Linked DNA regions of Homo sapiens: region 2 is linked to region 1. The links come from fine-mapping of genetic effects on gene expression. A gene starts in region 1. The other region holds a variant in brackets. All regions are shown on one strand. Distances are from middle to middle. Region 1 holds the start of PMP22 (peripheral myelin protein 22). Region 2 overlaps TVP23C-CDRT4 (TVP23C-CDRT4 readthrough).

Region 1 (9,818 bases):
TCCCAGGCCCCTCTGTTCCTCTCCACAAGCATCACATTCAAAGAAACTCTGGAATGCACTGGAAGAAATAAACAAGGATTTCTGATGACTCCCAGAGGGTTTGAATTAAGCCGATGGCAGGAGGCTGGGAACTGGGGAACCACAGGAGTCCAACACTCTCGGGATGTCCGCCACAGGGACTGTTTTGCCAGTGTGTCCCAGAGTCAACGCCTCTTCAGCAAGGCGAGAACTGGGCCGCCCTTATCCGCTATCCAGACACCAGCACCATCACCCTTGCCCTGTAAGGTCTTATAGACCATAAAGGCTCTCCTCGTTGTATTACTCCAAGACCCATTGGAGGGAAACAGGACACACAGGGGACCCTGTGCCCCTAAACAGAAGCCCCAGGGAGCTGGCCAAAGCCCCGCGCCTGCGCTGCGCTTTCTGGCACCCTCACTGGAAGATGCCCACATTTCTCCTCCATCTCCTTCACTCTCCCCACCAAATCACTTACAGCCCAAAGGAACAGCTGTCCCGATCCTCAGGGTGGCCTCAAACACAAACTCGGGTGCGTTGGCTCCGCTGCTGGCGCCGCCAAAGCTGCGCTGCGGGGCTGCGCGCGCGCGAAGCAAGGGGGCAGTGGGAGGCTCCTGGCGTTCCCCTTTAACGGGAACAACGCCCTGTTTGCGTCGCTGCAGTAGGGTGTGTCCCTGGGTCAGCGTGTGCGGGAGGGCGGGACTCAGGGAGGAGAGGGGGCAGGAGAGAGGGAGGGCAGGAGACAGTCACTTGGCCTTAAATGCGCCTCAAGAAAAAGTCGGTCCCTGCAAAACCGCGGCGACTTTTACTCGAAACCAGAGGCGGCTGAGCTTTCTCACCTCCCACCTCCCTTCTCCCCTGGCCCCGTGGAGACCTAGTGTTGACCGAGAAACTGGCTCCTCAGCCCACTCTGGGAAGACCCAGCCAAATGTAGCTCAGCGGATGCCCAGGGCTGGGCTTCTGGGCCCGCCGACGCCGACCGCGCCCGCGCGGGGCTGAGGCTGGATTCCTTTCCCACTAATAGAGGGCAGCGGGCGCTTGAGCGCTGGAAGAAGTCCCTCTCCTCTCGGGTCCTGGAGCCCCTGCCCTGTCCTGGCGTCTTAGCCGGACACACCTGCCCCGCGCCGGTCCCCGCTATTACTGTCTGCACCTACGAAGCATGCCAGCTTCCTAGGATTGGCGGGGATTGATCTAGCGGGCTCCTCTTGGGTGCGAATTAGGGGAAGAAAAGTCCGGCCGACTACTGGATAGCATGGTCTGGGATTGGGCTCCTCCTAGCCTAGGCAAAACCAGACTACCACCGAATAAGCTCTAGGCAAAGTGTTCCTGCAGCAGTCGGGCTTGGCTGTCAGCCTTGGCTGGAGTCCTGGCCATGGGGTTTGGCGGGCGGGTGCGAGGTGGCCATTTGAGGTGGGGTTGGAGCAGCCAAGGAAATCAGCTGATTCATAGCCTCCTAACGTGGCCCGCCCAGCGTTACAGGGAGAGAGGCTAGCCCCCTTCAGTCTCGGCTTGGCAGAGGCGCGCCCAACTGAGACTCCCGTGCGCAGGCCAGCCTTGAGGCACGGGACAGGGAGCAGGAATGTGGATGTTAAAGGTTTCTGCCTGAAAATGCAGCAGTTCACGCACGCGCGCGCACACACACACACACACACACTTCCCTACCTCTAGTGTACTGTGTCATAGAAGCTCATCACTCTCAATGATTCAAATAATTCTATATTATTTTACGATTTGAAAGGAGCTGCTATTTTAGCTAATTGTATATTCTTACGGTAAGTAAAAATAAATTTGAAAAAGATCTTCAAACAATGATCTTTTTAAAACTATCGTGTTATCAGATTAAAATGAAGTGTACTTGTAAACACTGCATTTACAGTGCCCGTTATATGCCAAGCACTTTGCCTGGACTTTATATGCATGGTCTGTGAGAGGCAGTATGGTGCAGTGGTTAGGCACTCTGGCTCTGGGCTCCAACAAACCTAATCACCCTGCTTACTTTTGTTGTGAATTTGGGCAATTTCTCAAGTTCACTGAGCTTCAGTTTTCTCAGGTGCAAAAGGAAATAGTAATGCCTGCTTTAAAGGTTTATGGTGGTGATTGAAGGAGACAATATGTACAAAGCAGTTAACATCGTGTCTGCAACATAATAAGGGCCCAGTGCCCAAATTGCCACCACTATTATTATATCACATTTAACTCTCACATCAACCTTTCAGGGAAGACCTGACCACCTCTGCACTAAAGTAGCTTGTAACTCTGATAGGTAGGTAGGTAGGTAGGTAGATAGATAGATAGATAGATAGATATAGATAGATAGATAAAGATTTATAAATGAAAGTGCATATGCAAGTAGAAAAAAAAGTCTAAAGACATGGCAGTGTTTTCTTTCCTCCACAGGTCATTTTATAAGTTAGATTTGCTCTAGAAATTATTACTTTGTTTTATGCCATTTGGACATTTATTTATTTAACCAACACTTATGTGATCACAACATACTCAGGACTGTTCTAAGTAAGCACTTTAGAAATATGAGCATATCTAACTCAGGGTTTTCTTTCCCTTCCTTTGTGATTTTCAAATAAACTTTTTAATAAAGTCTAATACACATACAGAAAAGTGCATATATTGGGTGCTACAGCTCGCTTCTTCCTTTCTTTTGAACCCAATAGTTTAATCAATAACCACCCAGGTCACAGCCACACCATATACTGCCAGACAGGTAAACCCAACCCATCTGTCCCTCACTGCCTCTGGCCTCCTGCCTGGTTCTCAATGGTGGCAGAGGAAGTGCTACTCAGTGCCTGCTGACCAGGCTTGCCACACCCAGAGCCCGGCTGGCCAAGGCTCTGCCACAGGTGGCAGCTTCTCCCTAACCTGCTTACCAAGGCCACCTGCCAGCTGTGTGTGCACAGCTATTTTCCATGGGGGAAAAAGCATCTAGATTCCTTTCTTCCTTTCAATCTGGATGCATTAGGGTTTCTAGATGCTCTCAGATGGCCCCCCACCTCCCCAGCCAGAGTATATATCCACCTTTTAACCAAGGATATAAAAAGCCCTCTGAATCTCCAGTCAATTCCAACACAAATGCACCATCTCTCCTGCAATCCTTTTCATTTGCGGCTTGCAGGGGGTGGGAAATTAGGCAATTCTTGTAAAGCATAGGCACACATCACCCAGAGGCACAGTTTGCCAATAAAACTCACCCGGCCAAACAGCGTAACCCCTTCTTCCAAGCAGATTTCTTTGCAGCCAAATGCAAGGGATGTTAAGGCAAGACCCTCCCCACAGGGCAGTCAGAGACCCGCAGCCGACAGACTAAGCCTGCAGCTTCCAACCAGGCTCCCCGAGATGTTCCCTGGTGGTGCTCCCTGTAACTGAAGCCAGACCAGGCGTCTTTCCAGTTTATTCAGGGGCTGGTCCAATGCTGGGATATGTCATGGTGGCCTGAGAGGTTCTCAGCCTCTATTATTTAAAGAGACAGTGTCCAACTTTGTTTGCTTTCCAGAATACAATAATCCCAAGAGGCCCTGCAGGGCATGGAGAAACTGGAATCAGAAGGGAGAAGAGCTTTGAGTATGCCTGAAGCCTGTGATGCCAAGACTGTTCTCTCTGGAAGTGCCAACCTGTGTAATAGCCAAGAGGTCCCACTGGCTCCCCTCCCCTCCCAGTGAATTCTGCAGAGATTAAATATACTGTGGGAAGGATCTGTGTCTACAGTGTTACATACGTGCAGGTAAGTTTTATTTTAAATAAACTTCCTTTTAAGGAGCCCAAACATTGCACAGCTAATCTCTCACAGCATCACAGCAGTGAGCCAAATGTCTCAAGAGTCACCAAATCAAGCCTCCTTTGTTCCAACCCCTGGTTGGAAGGACTCCCTGTTACCTGCCTTGTCTGCCTAGACCCCATCGCAAATGATCACATGTGTTGTACATTAGAATAAAACTTAGGGAAATGTGTTCTTCCGACTCTGTCTTTAATGTGCCCGAATCAAGCTGACCTTCATGAGATAATTCAATGCAAGTAAACGAACCTCTATTGAAAACTATTGAAAACTTTCTAACCTGTCAGGCAGAATAGGCTGGAAGAGCAATTGGAAATTCTTGGAGAGGGAAGTAAAGGAAGTTATGGCATATTTAGGTTCTTTGCAGCGTACCACTCCAGCTCCCAGAGAGTCCTCCATCCCTTGAACCGCTTCTAGCTGCAAACTCTGACACAAGAGGACTGGTTTCATTGCATGAGTTTCCTGGAATTCTGGCACTTGGGGCATAAGACTTCCTCTTGTGTTAGGGATCCCCAGTCTGGAGAGACCTGCAGAATTTGGAGGAGTCCCTCCCTGTCACACACTTTACGTTTGATTGGACTCTCCAGTCACAAGGGCCTCTCAATGGCCCTCTCCCCTGTTCTGCCCACAGCCAGCATCTGCTCACAGCCAGCATCACAGCCAGTGCCAATAAAATAGTTTCACCTTTCTCTCTTTGCTGAAATCATTTTTATTTTTCACAGCAGTGGTTCTTTAGAATCACTCAAGAGCTTTGCAAATGACCTAGCCTGGGCCATGGTCAGAGAAGCTGACTCAGGTGTTTTGGGATGGGGCTCAGGTATGGGTAATTTCCAGTGTCTTTCTCCCCGCTGGATGTTTCGTTGTCCAGCCAGGTTGTCATGTGGAGTTAGATTGTCGCTGATTTCCTTCCAGCTCCCTTCTGTTGTGGAACCCAAATGGAGATGAGGTACAGTGTGGGCTGCTGCAGTATTATGCAAGTTATAAGTCTGTTCTGCCAGGCAAAACGGTGTGTGTGTGTGCGCGTGTATCTGTGTGTGTGTGTGTGCGCGTGTGCGTGTGTGTGACAGAGAGAGAGAGAGAGGAGCCTCCCTCAGTCCTCCTCTGACATGGTCTGTACGGGGACTGGGAACAGTGAGCATGGTTTTTGCAGCCTCTCCAGACAGTCTTTTCCTGGGTACTGCCATGATCAGCTCCAAAGGCTACACGACAGAGGCTGCTGTCCGTCAGGCCAGGATCAAGCCTGAAGACACGTAAGATTATTTCTGATCTAAGAGCTAAAGATTCAGAGGAAAAGGGGTAGGGCCTGGTGAGTGTGGGGCATGGCTTCTGGCCAGATAGGAGCAGTCTGATTAGCCCTCCCTCTCTCCTTCCATGAGCTCCACATTCTGAGACCTGCTCTCTTGGCCTCACGTCTCTTTTGCCCAGGTCCTCCATCTCCAGCAGCCAAACCCCGAAGTCCCTGTTGGCTGTCAGCAGTAGAGCTGTTCACTGTTGTGTGCCACTGGCCCTGTCTACCAGATGCCAACACACTTGTCTTTACCCATCTGGGCCAGACTCTCTTCCCTTCCCAGAGTCAGGTGAGGAAAACTCCTTCCTCGTCTCCCATTTCCAATAACCTTTTCTCAGCCAAATGGGACCCCTATCCCATGCATCTGTGTTGAGCAATGTCTCTGCAAAGCTGTAGGCTATATCCCACTGAGCCTCTTGCAAAATAAACACATAGAATAGTCACCAAATAACATTTATTATTATTTGCTATCCTCCCTTCCATTTACAGATAGGAAAAATGAGAATCGGGATTCTCTGAGGAAACACAGTTGAGTCAATGAGACTGGCTATTTCTAGCACCTGAGCTGTTCTGCTACACCACGCTCCATCGGCTCAGTAGCATCAGTTATCCGCAAGTCCTTGATAATGATGATAATAGGTTATATTTACTTCGTGTTTAGCATATGCCAGGCACCATCTTGAATATTTTATATGCATCAAATCACTTAATCCTCACAACCGTATGAAATAGGCACCCCATCATCCTCTTTTAGAAGAGGGAGAAACTGAGGCACAGCGAGATGTTCAGTCACTTTCTCAAGACACACTGCAAAGAAATGACAGAGGCTGGATTCCAACCAGGCATTCTGGCTACAGATCCCGTACTCACAGCCTGGACTATCTCACATTCTACCGTGCCCCTAATTGTGCCCAGCACGTTCCTAGCATATCTTCTCATCATGCTTCCATAGACACTATCATTTAATGTCCTATTTGTATGAAAGATATTCTCACATTATACATATTTATGCATTCACGTTTCTTTTTCCATTAAAAAGCAAGAACATATCCTAAGACATCCATTTTTTTTTCAGCACCAGTCACATTTAGTACAGCTTTCAAGAATCCTGTCTCATCCTGCCAACAAGGCTGTGTGCTCCTCCGAGGACATTTGCATTCCATATGTCTGTATAGCATAAGCACTGGCAGAATCCTGCCTGTAGGTGAGATTTTAATTTCATAAGAATGAAATGTTGTCCATGACAGTGGAATCCCAGCAGACTCTTGAAGAGGGAGGAAACCCTTCCGCACTTTATAGCTAATAAAATGCTGTTAACATATGGCAGTATCTTATTTAAGAGGAATCATTATAATCATTTTCTATGTGAAGAAACTGAGGCTTGGAAAATTTACAGTGTTTCCTCCAGGGACTAGCTAGTGAATGCCAGGGCTGGGGCTTAAAAAAGTCCATTCCTCTGACTCCCAAACCTGTAATTTTTTCACTGTGCAGGCTCCCCAGAGAGAAAACCAGAGGCAAGTCTGAATTTGGTGTTTGTCCAGGTGATGAAGTTGTTGTTGCAGCATCTATCCCACCAGGTGCTCAGTCAATATCTGAAAAGTGTTTACACTAAGAATGAAGTCTTTCCTGTGTCCTCATAGCCAGCAGCCTGTGTGGGAGTTCTTGGCCAGCCCTGGACACAGCTGGCCTGGAAGGGTCCTCAAAAGTCAGTCCTGCCTCATCTAGACTCAGCTAGACTGTTTTGATGTCGAGTGAGAGCAGCTTGTTGAAAGAACAAGCAAGGCAGGGAAAGAAGGCAGAGGGGAAGGAAGGAAGGAAGGAAGGAAAGAGGGAGGGAGGGAGGAAGGAAGGAAGGAAGGAAAGATGGAAGGAGAGAGGGAGGGAGGGAGATATAGATAGGAAGAGGGGAGGGAAGAGAAGGAGAAGGGAGAAGAAAAGGAACAGAAGGAGCCAGTTTGACTTCTGTGACAGAATCTTCTACAAATAAGCAAGTTTGAAATTATGACAGGTCCCAATCCCTAGAAGATATTCTTTATGAACAACACAGACGCAGTCAGAAAGCAACATAAAGACACACACAAAAAAAAACTCACATTGGCACAGGACTGTTCCCTAAATGACATCTTTAAAATATAGAAAGGTATCTTGGAGTAAATTGTATATTAACTCCTTCACCTGTGGGAGAGAGAAGTCACAGAATTATTATGTTGTGGCAGTGGGACCAGACCAAGTACAAAGGATTCTCTGTTCACAAATGCATTGTTGCTTAGGAAAGCCAGATTCCACAGATGCAAGTGGAGGGGGGAAAGCAGTCTTTTCTCTGACATCTCATGAGTTAGCAGCTAGAGGATTGGGGAGCAATTTAAGCAAGAGTCAGAAATGGATGTGTACTTGGGATTGCAAACTCTAAAACTTTTCTAAGACTGTTTACTCCTAAGTGAAAATGCTTCTGCTCCAGTAGGGCATAGGTTCAAATAAAATGGGGAAGCAGAGCAATCTTGCCACACGGGAATGGACGGAATGGGGAGGAATGCAGGGATTTTCTAGGCCACTGCAGACCAGGCATAGAAATGTCGAGAAAAGCAGCCTTGGCTTGATGTGAGAGATTGTCCTTATTGAGAGAGGTGCACAGGAAGGCCCATGTAACCCAAGGAAATGCCTGCTTCAGGCAGTCGAAGCCACACCAAGAAATGGAGCATTAATCTCCAGCAAGGACGAGGTGAACGCAAACGGTCCTGGATGGGACCCTGGGAGGACAAGCCCCACGACGCATCATAGTCCCCACAATGCATCATTCTGTGTGCACTTCTGAGCCTAGGGAGCACCAGTTGTACTTAAAATGAACTGGAGACCAGATGTTTTCTTCATCTCTGAGTTCCTGCACCACTTATCAAGTGTGAAACCTCAGCTAATCCAGGGAAGTTCACAGACAAAGGTCAAATCCTTTCGAGACGTTCAAGGGAAAGCCGGGCAAAACTTCAAGAATGTTTACTCTTCATTGTTAGACTAGGAAATATCTAATCTAGAGGGTTTCAGTGGTAAGCCTGGGCCTCATATAATTGTTTTACTTTAAATTTTGGGCTCAGAAATTAAAATTCTAGAAATGTATCTTTAGAAAGTCATGGATATGCAAAAATTTGGCTATAATGGTATTCATAGCCAAATAAAGGTGATATGTTTTATAACAAAGAAAAGTGTGAACATCCTAAATCTCAAAGACTAGAGGAATGATTGAGTAACTTTTGGTACAGTCATAAGATGAAATATTATGTAAGTATTAAAAAATAATGTCCAAGAAGAATGTTTAATGAAATGAAGAGCCATTCGTGATGGATACAAAATAGCACACCTATAATTTGTTGAGCACTGGCTATGTGCCAGGCACTGTGCTAACCCTCTCATTAAATACCTCCAACAATCCCACGAGGGGAGAACTGCCGTGACCCCCAAGACACCCACACAGTGAGAAAATGGTGGAGCCAATATATAAACTTTGACCACTTGAAGCCAAGACCCCAGGTTCTTGACCACTAAATGCCACCAAATGTACAGTCTTTGAGTACCACTGTGACAAAAATGAAAGTAAAACTGAAAGAATGCGAAGACTGAAGAATGCAATATGACAGAATTTGTTCAACACTGTGTCTCCAAGTTCTAACATTAAATGGGAGAAATAACTGCATGGAGCTGAACACATAACAGGATTCATTGTGACGAGCGATCGCACATCTCAGCCTTGTGCCTCCATCATAAGGAGTCTGTGACTCTGTAACTTCGGTGTAGGAAACGCACACTGCGTCAACCCCAGGGAGGCACTGGGAGGGCCACGAGCCAGGTCTTGCTTCATCTTTTGCACTGACCCCAAGTGGAGTCACTCCAGGCACAGAGGTGGTATGGCAGTATTGGAATAAGCTGTGCATCTTACAATGTTGATGGTAAAATGCAGGCATTTATATAGACCATGAGTTTAATAACTGTACCTTATACTTATTTAAATACATTGGGAGATTAAGAAAAATAAAAGGAAAAAAGAGAAGTGGTTTTGAAGTTTCTTGGTCTTGAGGGAGCCTGAATGAGCCAACAGTTCATTGGTTTAGTTATGTGACTTTAAATATGAGAATCCCTCCAACCCACAGCAAGAGCATGGTCAGACATGTGGTTCAGATGAGTAAAACTGCACTGACATTTATGGTCAATTTGACCGAGGGAGAAAACTCTCATGGTTTCCAATGGTCTATCACCTACTGCATTGCCTTCTTTCTCAGAATCCCTCTCCCTCTTGCTTTCCCTACCCTCCCTCCCTTTACCTCTCTCTATCCCCTTCCATTTTTTTTCCCTCTCTCTCTCTCACGTTCCAGCCTCACAATGTGAAACCATAATGAAACCGCAATCACTTGACTATCTGAATTCTATGATTTTGTGAGCTCCTTGATTATTGGGAGACCCCAGGTCATTTTCGAATTCCTCATCCCAGCAAAATGTTTCTGCCCATCCTCCCCAGGGGACAGTCCCCATGCTCTCCTGCTTTACTCCTGTCTAATCTTGGATCATTTAACCTGCAACTGTGTCTTGGGAATCGCTAGGAGGAAACACGATTACAAAGCATTTTCTAAATGTATGGGACCATGGAATTTTTATTCCCAGGTTACCTCCAAGACTTAGGTTCCACGGACCTCACTGTTGGAAACATTGGGCTCCACGATTCTAGTCTCTAACCATGGAGGCGAGCTG
Region 2 (10,005 bases), 220 kb after region 1:
TTACCTGAGAGACGTTTAACAAGACAACATTTATTTGCCACTCATTTCCTCCCCTCACCCTCCCATAACTTGTTCCGCTACCACCCCCCAGAAGTTCCAAGTCCCTATTCCTTTCTGTAGCTGAGGATGCTATACAAGCTTCAATCACTTAACCTCTCAAGTCTCATATTTTGTGGGACTCCCATGTCCCACATAATTAATGTATTAATTAATTAATACATAATTAAACGTAGTTTTTCTCCTGCTATTCTGTCTTATGTCAATTTAATTCATAGCCCAGCCAAGGAGCCTAGAAAAGTAGTGTCTACCAGAGAATTGGTGAGTAGAGAGGTCAAGCAAGAATAAGCAAACACCTAGAGGGCATTTGGGCTGCAGAGATGAAGTTTTTAGTAGAGACAGGGTTTCACCATGTTGGCCAGGCTAGTTTCCAACTCCTGACCTCAAGTGCTCCGCCCACCTAGGCCTCCCAAAGTGCTAGGATTATAGGCGTGAGCCACCACACTCACCCTAAAATAATTTCTTAATAACTCCTACCACACTAGCATTCAGTCCATTGCAAGAAGATATTTGAAACTTAGAGACTGGGTGAGGTCACCTAGGAAGTATATATAGATAAAGAGAAACCAATCTGAGTCCTGGGGTGCTCCAACATTTACCACCTCCACGGCTATCACCCAGGCCCAAAACATCCTCAACTACATTTCAGCAGCCTCCTAACCAGCCTCCCTGGTTCCACACTTGCCCATCTCCATTTATCTCCACACAGCAGGCATAGTGGTCCCATCAAAATCAGATCCCACCACTCCTCTGCTCAAACCCTGCAAGGGGCATGCAGATGTGGTACATCCATATAACAAGATCATATTTGTCAATAAAAAGAACTCGGGTACGGATACATGTTCCAATGTGGATGAACCCTGAAGATATTATCCTGCATAAAATAAGCCAGTCACAGAAGACCCTATATCCTGTGGTCCATTTACGTGATATGACCAGCATAAGCAAATCTGCAGACAGAAAGTACATTGATGGTTGTCAAGGGTTAGGGGAGAGAGGAATGGGGTGTGACTGTTAATAGGGATGAAGTTTCTGAAATTACACAATTCTATGAATATACTAACAACCACTGAATGGTACACTGGCCATGAGTGAATTTATGGTACATGAATTCTATCTCCATAAAGTAGTCCCGCCTTATCCACAGGGATTACATTCCAAGACCGCCAGTGGATTCCTGAAACTGTGGATAGCACCAAACCTGATTGCCATTAGTCAGAACGTGGAACATGTTTCTGTTCATGTCTTCTACCCACAAATTTAATGCTTTTTCCATCTTAACTAAGCACTTGTCATACATCATGGTCATAGCTTTTGCAGTTTGAATTGCGACAGCAAAACTAGTAGGAATTTCTTTTTCCTGATTCACAATTTCACAGTTTCACAGATAGAACATTCGTTCTTTTTCTTTCTTTTCTCTTTTCTTTTCTTTTTTTTTTTTTTTGAGATGGAGTCTCGCTCTGTCACCCAGGCTGGAGTGCAATGGTGCAGTCTCGGCTCACTGCAACCTCCACCTCCCGGGTTCAAGTGATTCTCCTACTTCAGCCTCCTGAGTAGCTGGCATTACCGGTGCGTGCCACCATGCCTAGCTAGTTTTTGTATTTTTAGTAGAGACAGGGTTTCACCATGTTGGCCAGGATGGTCTCAATCTCTTGAACTCGTGATCTGCCACCTCGGCCTCCCAAAGTGCTGGGATTACAGGCTTGAAGAAGGTTCATTCTTACTGTAGAACTTAACAACGTCAGCAGATGTTTTTTTTTCCGTCATTGAGAACTTTCACCTTTTCACTTGAAGGAAGCACTTTATGACTTCTCTTTGGCATATCTGAATTGCCAGCACTGCCACTCTTGCACCCAGGGGCCATTACTAAGTAAAATAAGGGTTCCTTGAACACATGCACTGCAATGCTGCCACAGTGGATTTGATAACTGAGTCAGCTACTAAGTGGCTAAGAGGTGCAATTTAAAATATGAATTATTTCTGGAATTTTCCATTTTATGTTTTTGGACCACAGTTGATGGCTGGTAACTCAAGCTGGTAACTTTTGGAAAGCAAAATTGTCAATAAGGGGAGGGACCACTGTAGAGCTATTTTAAAACTCTGCCCTGGCTCCCCCTACTATGCAGACAGAAGCATCATCATTCAAAGCCTCACATTCTACCGACGCTCTCTCCCCAATCTCTGATCTTCACTTCTCCTACTGTCCCCCTCCTGGCTCCTCCTGCCCCAGCCACTGTAGCCTCCTTGTTGTGCCTCAAACATGCACACTACAGACGCAAATCTTTGCACCTGCTCCTCCTTCTCCCTCCATTTATCTATGTCATTACTATGACATATGTCACTACTTTACCTCTCTCAAGTCATCATCCAAACATCACCCTGTCACTTGCCAAAGCGGCCCTCCTGGCAGCCCACATCTGCCCATGGTGGTGGTATACGCTCCCCAATCACTTTCTTGCTTCATGTTTCTTCATTATCCTTCTGATTATTTAGGCCACTAGATACTTATTCATTTTGTCTATTACCTGCAACACCAACTAGAAGGTAACTTGCACAAGGGTGGGAATTTTCACTGGATGTATTCATTGTCGAATCCACAGGACCTAGAACAGAGGCCAGCACCCAGAAGGCACTCAATAGACATCTATCTTCAGTGGTTATGTGGTTATTTCTGTGCACTGTCTTATGGGCAACCAGATTTCTTTTCTGAGGTTGTTTGTTGTTTGGGGAGATTTTGGGGCCTTGCAAGTTTTGTACAATGAATATACATTACTTAGATAGTCAGGAAAAAATGTTATATAAGGGGGAAAAGTCCTACCACTGCTGCCACTGCCTGTGGGATGCAATCCTGAACTCCTTAGCAGGCGCTGGCTTTTCCAAAGTCAAAGCTCTTCCTCCCCTCCCTTTCCACTGCCCTAGGTCAAAATGAATCCAGTGGAGTCCTGGTTCCCCGAGATGAAAGTAGATGTTCTCTGAAACAAAAAGAGAGAATTCCCTGTGCTTAAAAATGGTTAAACAGGTTTTGTCGTGTTTGGTTTGGTTTGCTAAGAGCCTGCAGTAAGCTTTGCACATCGTGGAACTCTAAGAAGGCCACATAGTGGGATACCCACCCTGACATATTTGACCCCAGAACCTCCTCTTTTACTGGCTCATCTCCAAGGACTCGAGTTCCAAGGAACAAGTCCCAGGGACGTCGCCCCCATCAGACAGGACACTTGGCTGTGCAGCAGCCCAAGCTCCTGGAATCCTCTCCCCTCCTCCACCTGTAGAAACTCTACCCATGCTTCACAAGACAGTCCTGCTTGTGCCCTATCTAGGAATCCTTCTCTACTCTCAGCCCCTCATTCCCCTGTGTTTCTACAGAACATCACATCTATGATGAAAGCTCTTATCATGGTCATTGCTCCAGCTGTCATCAACAGCTGTCATCAACTGGTGTCTTCAACACCAGACTGCAAGCCCCTCGGGTGCAGCAATGGGGCCTCCTCCACATGGGTTTCCCAAGGGCATGGTGTGATGCTGGGCTCTGGGAATGTTTATGCCCCAGAACTGCCACTTTGGAGGCAGGTGGGCCTCCCTTCTTGGGGTGAGCAGCCCAGCAAGCAGGCCGGCGAGGAGCTTCATGCAGCATCCTTTCCGCTTCCCCTTCTCAGTATCTCTGCCTAGGGACAGAAAGTCCCTGGAAACCTAGGGGTGAGGATCTTGGGTGTCTTTTTCTTAGCTGTTCTCTTTATCTTTGGAATTTCTTTAAAAGGCTGTTTTTTAATTTAATTTTTTATTTTTATTTTCATTTTTATTTTTTTTTGAGACGGAGTCTCACTCTGTCATCCAGGCTGGAGTGCAGTGGCACAATCTTGGCTCACTGCAAGCTCCGCCTCCTGGGTTCACGCCATTCTCCTGCCTCAGCCTCCCGTGTAGCTGGGACTACAGGCGCCCGCCACCATGCCCAGCTAATTTTTTTGTATTTTTTTTAAAGACAGGGTCTCGTTCTGTTGCCCAGGCTGGAGTGCAGTGGCACAATCACAGCTCACTCTAGCTAATTAGAAAAAAAAAATTGTAGAGGAGGGGGTCTCACTGTGCTGCCCACGTTGGTCTCAAAATCCTGGCCTCAAGCCATCCTCCTGCCTCAGTCTCCCAAAGCACTGACATTACAGGAGTGAACCACTGCATCCAGCCAAAAGGCTGTGTTTAAATCAGAGGACCCGGTATCTGGAATTAACCTGGCCTGGCTATGATGGTGTCATATTGAGTCTGGCATCTTCTGTTAACTTACTGGTTGGCAAAGGAGCTGTTTGGAAAATAAAAACTGCCTTCTCTGTGGGAAGAGGGTCGATCTGCTGTGGGGGTTGGGGGGAGTGGAAAGCACCTTAGATTGAGAGTCAGGAAGCTCACATTTGAGTTTTAACAATGTCACTAACATTATAAAGGTTTAGGGCAATCA[C/T]CTAACTCTTCCAAAACTCTAGTTCCTTAATTCTAAAGTGGAAGAATTTTAGGGATCCTTCACAGCTCTAAGACTAAAGATCAACTTAAAAAGAATAACCCTTGGGGTATCTATTTGCAGAGAACTGTCTTTCTTTTTCCTTTTCTTTTTTTTTTTTTTTTTTTTTGAGATGGAGTCTCGCTCTATCGCCAGGCTGAAGTGTAGTTGCGCAATCTCAGCTCACTGCAAGCTCCGCCTCCCGGGTTCACGCCATTCTCCTGCCTCAGCCTCCTGAGTAGCTAGGACTACAGGTGCCCGCCACCACGCCCGGCTAATTTTTGTATTTTTAGTAGAGACAGGGTTTCACCATGTTGGCCAGGGTGATCTCGATCTCTTGACCTCGTGATCCACCCGCCTCAGCCTCCCAAAATGCTGGGATTACAGACGTGAGCCACGGTGCCGGGCCTGCAGAGAACTGTCTTTCAAAACGTTCTAGTGACCACATAGTACAGTCTCACACAGGGAGGCTCCGTGGCCTCCACCACCAGCCAGCAACGTCAGAGGGGATTGTTCACGCCCTTGCTAGTGTCTTCCAAGATGGTCCTTTGAGAGGTTTGTAGTAAGTTTGTAGAATACTGGTGAGTCGGTCAGGGACAGCTTGAGTATGATTCGCAACCCCCAAAACCACCTCCCTATGGGCAAACCGTATCCACAGAGCACATTCATAAGCCTGATTTAAAATACTCGCTCCTTGTGCCTCAGCCATTACTCTCTTTCTGTCCAGGTCTCTTATTCTGACTTAGTGGAAAATAAGGTTGTTACAGCAATGGCTCCATTCGTCCTGTGGGCAAGAAACTCATGGAGAGAATTAGTCAATTCTTCCTGGACATTCGGGAGCTTCTGGGTGGAGGGAAGACTGCGAAGCAGAAACAAACAGAAATCCTAGAGAGGCAGTCATCTGAGCATTCGTCACAGGGGCACTCCTAGGATCCACCCTCAGAAGCCGTGAAAGGCCCATTGATCTGGCTGGGGCAGGGAGTGGCCCTGAGCTGGTGACATCTCAGGCGAGGAAAGGCACAGATGTCTGTGCTGGCTGTGATAAGAGGCTTCTCAGGAAATCTGAGTCACCTCGGGCCGGCTCTTCGAAGCATAGAGGCCCAGCAAGCACCACAGCCTGGAGGCAAAGCTTCCTGCTAGCCCTGGGACCCTGGGACTTTGCATTTCCTGTTGGTGTCCTTTGACTTGGGCAGCCACCACCCCTGGGAAGTTTTCCAACACCCTCACTCATGCATTTTGAACCTGGTGTTCACAGCTCTTTGTCTCTGCTCATCTCGCTTTTGTTTCCTCTGGAATGTTCCAAGCCCCCTGCATCACCCCATGCCAGGAATCTGACATCCCAGAGTGGAAGCCGGCTTCATGTTACTCACCCCACCCTGTGATTTCCTGATGGAGGATCCGGAGACCTGAACTCTGGTCCAGGTTTACAGACAACTCATAATCATGGTTGAGGCCCCTTTCTAGGCCTTACTGTTCTCATACTTTTAACTGGGGATGGGGGCAGGATGGGAAACTTTTGGAAAAACAGACTTTTTAAAACTGGAATGATGCTAGACATTTATTTGCTACTACCTGCTGGCTGCTGCCTGTCATTTCATCATTACATAGAAAAGAAATGCTCCAACATTTTGTCATGCATTTACTCCTTGGTATAAGGGAAGGATTCAAGAAACGTCTTATGGAAGCAAAAATAACAGTAAATTATGCAAAGGCACTGGTTCCCTTCAGGGGCTGGAGTAAGACTGGTGAGAGTCGTGGGAAGGGAAGAAGCACAGAGAGAAGATTCCACTTCACGCATATTTTTTAGGGTTTGGCCTAAATAAAAGGACTTTCAGAGATTATAAGAGAATATTTGTGTTTAAAAAAAACACGTTAGATAAATTTAATAGAGTTAATTGAGCAAAAAATTATTCAAGAATTAGACAGACTCAGCACACCCACAGTGACTCTGGTGCATGGTCGGAGAGGATTTATAGACAGAAAAAGAAAGTGATCTACAGAAAACAGAAACAGCTAGGCTGCTTACGGCTCCGTGTCTGCCTGATTTGAACACAGTTTGAGCAGTTGATCGCCTGTGATTAGCTGACACTCAGCTGCTCTGATGGGCTGACACTGGGCTAGTGGCTACAAGCCTCGGTTACAGTCTCTGTACACATCCAGTTAGGTTATCATCTGCACAGCGGAATGTTTAGGTGGAACTTAAAATATGTAAGGAGGCAGCTTGGGCTAAACTTGTTAACATTTGCTAGAGAAAAAAAAAAACATCTGGGAGTCAACCAATCCATCTTTGATTTCTCAACTATGGAGACCACCACCTTGAGCATCTTCTCTAAGGTCCCGTAGCCAGGAGTAATACCTGGTATCTTGACTTCATAGCCCATGACATTGGACAAGCCTCTCAACCTCTCAGGTCTCAATTTCCTCAATTGTCAAACAAGGATGACAGTAGGATTGTGGGGAACTAATGAGTATATTTACTCGATTTTGAAACAGTAGGTGTGCAATAGATGTTACATTGCCATCATCATCATCGTCATCATCATCATCGTCATCATCGTCATCATCATCATCATCATCTCACTATCACTACAGCTGCTGTTCCTGCCACCCAGGTCTCCCAGCAGCAGGTTGTCCCCTAGAACCACACCCAAACCATCCTCCTAACCAATGCTGTGCACCCTTCAGTAAGACTTTTCAAAAATGGACATAAAACAAAATAGTTCTTAAATGAGCCTACTTCTATTTTTCACATCCCCATTTCCCCAAGACGTACCTGTGCTCCAGATGGAAAACCATCAATTACAATCCTGCTCCTTCTGCGGCAGGGCAATGGGGAGTCACCCAAAGGAGCAGCGATGCTCAAGCCCCCCACAGAAGGACCCCCAGACTCCCAAAGAGAAATGGACGTGAACGTGGGTGAAGTCTTGGGCTGATCAGAGAGCAAGCAGGGCCAAGGGACATGAAGACAGGTGTGTTCTTAGAGACTGGTCACAGGAAGGAGCAGACTACCTGCCCCCTGCCCCCTAGTCCAAGCCTGGTTCTAGGTTAGAAGCGAATCAGCTGGAAGAGGAACAGCTGCTGAACAGAAAGCACAGCCTTGTGCCCTCCCAGAGAGCAAGGCATGGCATGCACAGCCTGCCCCAGGCTGCTGCCAGGGCCACCGCGGGGGGTCAGCTTCCATTGCTGAGCTGTGCTACGCCCTGGGAGCACCAATCTTTGTCAAAAGAATGGATTTGTGCAGCTAAACCCCACAGGGCCTGGCCATTGTGGACCTGTCTGTCTGCATTTCAACTCTGGGCTTCACTCTTTGGTGAATGTGAATCTCCAGCGGCACAGGCAGCCAGAACAGAAACGCCACGCAGTCTCACCCTGTCATGCCAAGAGCTTTGTCCGCTTTGGGACAGAGCCCTGTGCTGGGAGTCCATTGGGGAGACTCACAGGGATCCAGAAACCTGCTCCTGCCCTCAGGGAGCCTGCTGTGTAGCCTGGAGAAGGAACTCATAGGCATTTGCAGTACTGTCTATCTTGGGGTCTGTCATTCTCATCTAAATTAATGTTAACAGCACTAACTTAGCCTTTCTTACATGGGTGTGAAAACCACCAACATTCCTGGTATTAGGAGGTGGGCCTTCAGGAGGTCATTGGGTCATGAGGCTGGAGCTTGATGAAGGGGATTAGTGCCCTTATAAGGGGATAAAGAGACCAGAGCAAGTGTGCTTGCTCACTCCCCTTCTCTCCCTCCCTCCCTCTCTCTCCCATCCTCCTGCTCTCTCTCCCCTACTCCTCCCTTTCTCCCTCACCCACCCCCTCTTCCTCTTTTCCTTCCTCTCTCCCTCCCTCTCTCCCTCCCCCTCTCCCTCTCTCTCTCCCTCTCTTCCTCTTTCCCTCCCTCCCTTCCTCTCTCTCTCCCTCCCTCCCTTCCTTTCTCACTCCCTCTTCTCTCCCTCCCTCCTCTCTCTCTCCCTCCCTTCCTCTCTCTCTCTCCCTCTGCAGATGCCTGGCCATCTGCAAGCCAGGCAGAGGGCCTTCACCAGACACTGATCTCTGCCTTCCCATCTTTCAGAACTGCAAGAAATGAATGTCTGTTGTTTAACCCACATCTTGTTACAGCAGCCCACACTGGGCAAGATAGTGCTATCCAAAGAAAAGGTAACAAGTCCAATTATTCACTACATTTTCACATATTTGAAAAGCGTATGCAAACAGTGTGTTCCCAGTAGTCCTTTTTTTTTTTTTTTCTGGAGACAGAGTCTCGCTCACGCCTGTAATCCCAGCACTTTGGGAGGCTGAGGAGGGCGGATCACGAGGTCAGGAGATCGAGACCATTCTGGCTAACATGTTGAAACCCCATCTCTACTAAAAATACAGAGTGGTGGTGGGCGCCTGTAGTCCCAGCTACTCGGGAGGCTGAGGCAGGAGAATGGCGTGAACCCAGGAGGCGGAGCTTGCAGTGAGCCGAGATCATGCCACTGCACTCCAGCCTGGGCAACAGAGCAAGACTCCGTCTCCAAAAAAAAAAAAAAAAGAAAAGAAAAGAAAAGAAAAGAAAGAAATTATATTAAACCACTCCCTGGGAAGTCAATTAATTTTCTGTAGAACAAGTGCAAAATAATACTTACCAAGAAAAAAGCTCATTAATTTGGTCACTAAGAGAAGAAACCAAAATATAGACACATCTTCTAAATTATACCCAAGTAGCAAAAACAGTACACACTGTTTGTAAGATGCTGGAAAAAGAGACTCCATGATAAATGTTGAGCTTAGCATAAAGCAGTTGGCTTTTATTCTAATTTATTAATAGGCAAATTCCTTTATCAGATGATATTGTTGGATACTATAATATCAGTAATACCACGTATAAGAGCACTTACTACTGACAGTGACTGCAGATGTTTTCATCTGTAATTTGTCTAAGCCAGTGCTTCTCAACAGGGGTCAATTTTGCCCCCCAGGGGACATCTGGCTAAATCTAGAAGTATTTTTCATTGTTACAGCTGAGGAGGAAGAGGGACAAGAGAGTGCTACTGGTGTCTGTGTGTCAAAGCCAGGAAATCTGCTAAAATCCTACAGTGAAAAAGCCAACCCCCAAAAAGAATTTTCTGACCCAAAATGTCAGTGGTGCTGAAGTTGAGAAACTCTGATCTCAACCACTAATACACAGAACATGAACCAGCTGTATGAGGAGAGACAGAGGAGGGGATGGGGGGGGTGGAGGAGAGGAGGAGGGAAAATGATAAATGAAGGTCTTGAAGACTTTTTGTTCTTTTAAAATTGATGCTGTAGAAGAAGAGATGTTGTTGTAGCTAAGATAATGATTACTTTCTGATTCATGAAGCTCAGAAGGCATCTTGCCCTCCATATGATGAAAAGCTAGATATTGGTACAGCCTGCTTGATTAGCAGAGGTTAGGCCAACAACTGACTGTCGAAATAAATCATGAAAACTGGGGATATGGTCACATTGTGGTCACT

Evidence for each region. PIP is the estimated chance that this variant, and not a neighbour inherited with it, causes the effect.
Region 2: its variant is the best candidate, but not a certain one, in a credible set for the expression of PMP22 in whole blood (INTERVAL, PIP 0.77).

Annotation. Positions count from the first base shown.
Region 1 is chr17:15,261,936-15,271,753 of GRCh38, forward strand. PMP22 (peripheral myelin protein 22) reads right to left here and starts at 3,391. Exons shown (of 5, transcript NM_000304.4): 1 at 3,219-3,391. LOC124903931 (a long non-coding RNA gene) reads left to right here. Exons shown (of 2, transcript XR_007065632.1): 2 at 3,521-3,974.
Region 2 is chr17:15,485,306-15,495,310 of GRCh38, forward strand. The region is part of intron 4 of TVP23C-CDRT4 (TVP23C-CDRT4 readthrough); the gene reads right to left. Among named protein-coding and RNA genes, the nearest start is that of CDRT3, 19 kb to the left of the region's middle. RefSeq lists enhancers at 5,041-6,240, 5,530-5,824. The variant C/T (reference allele first, on the strand shown) is at 4,499.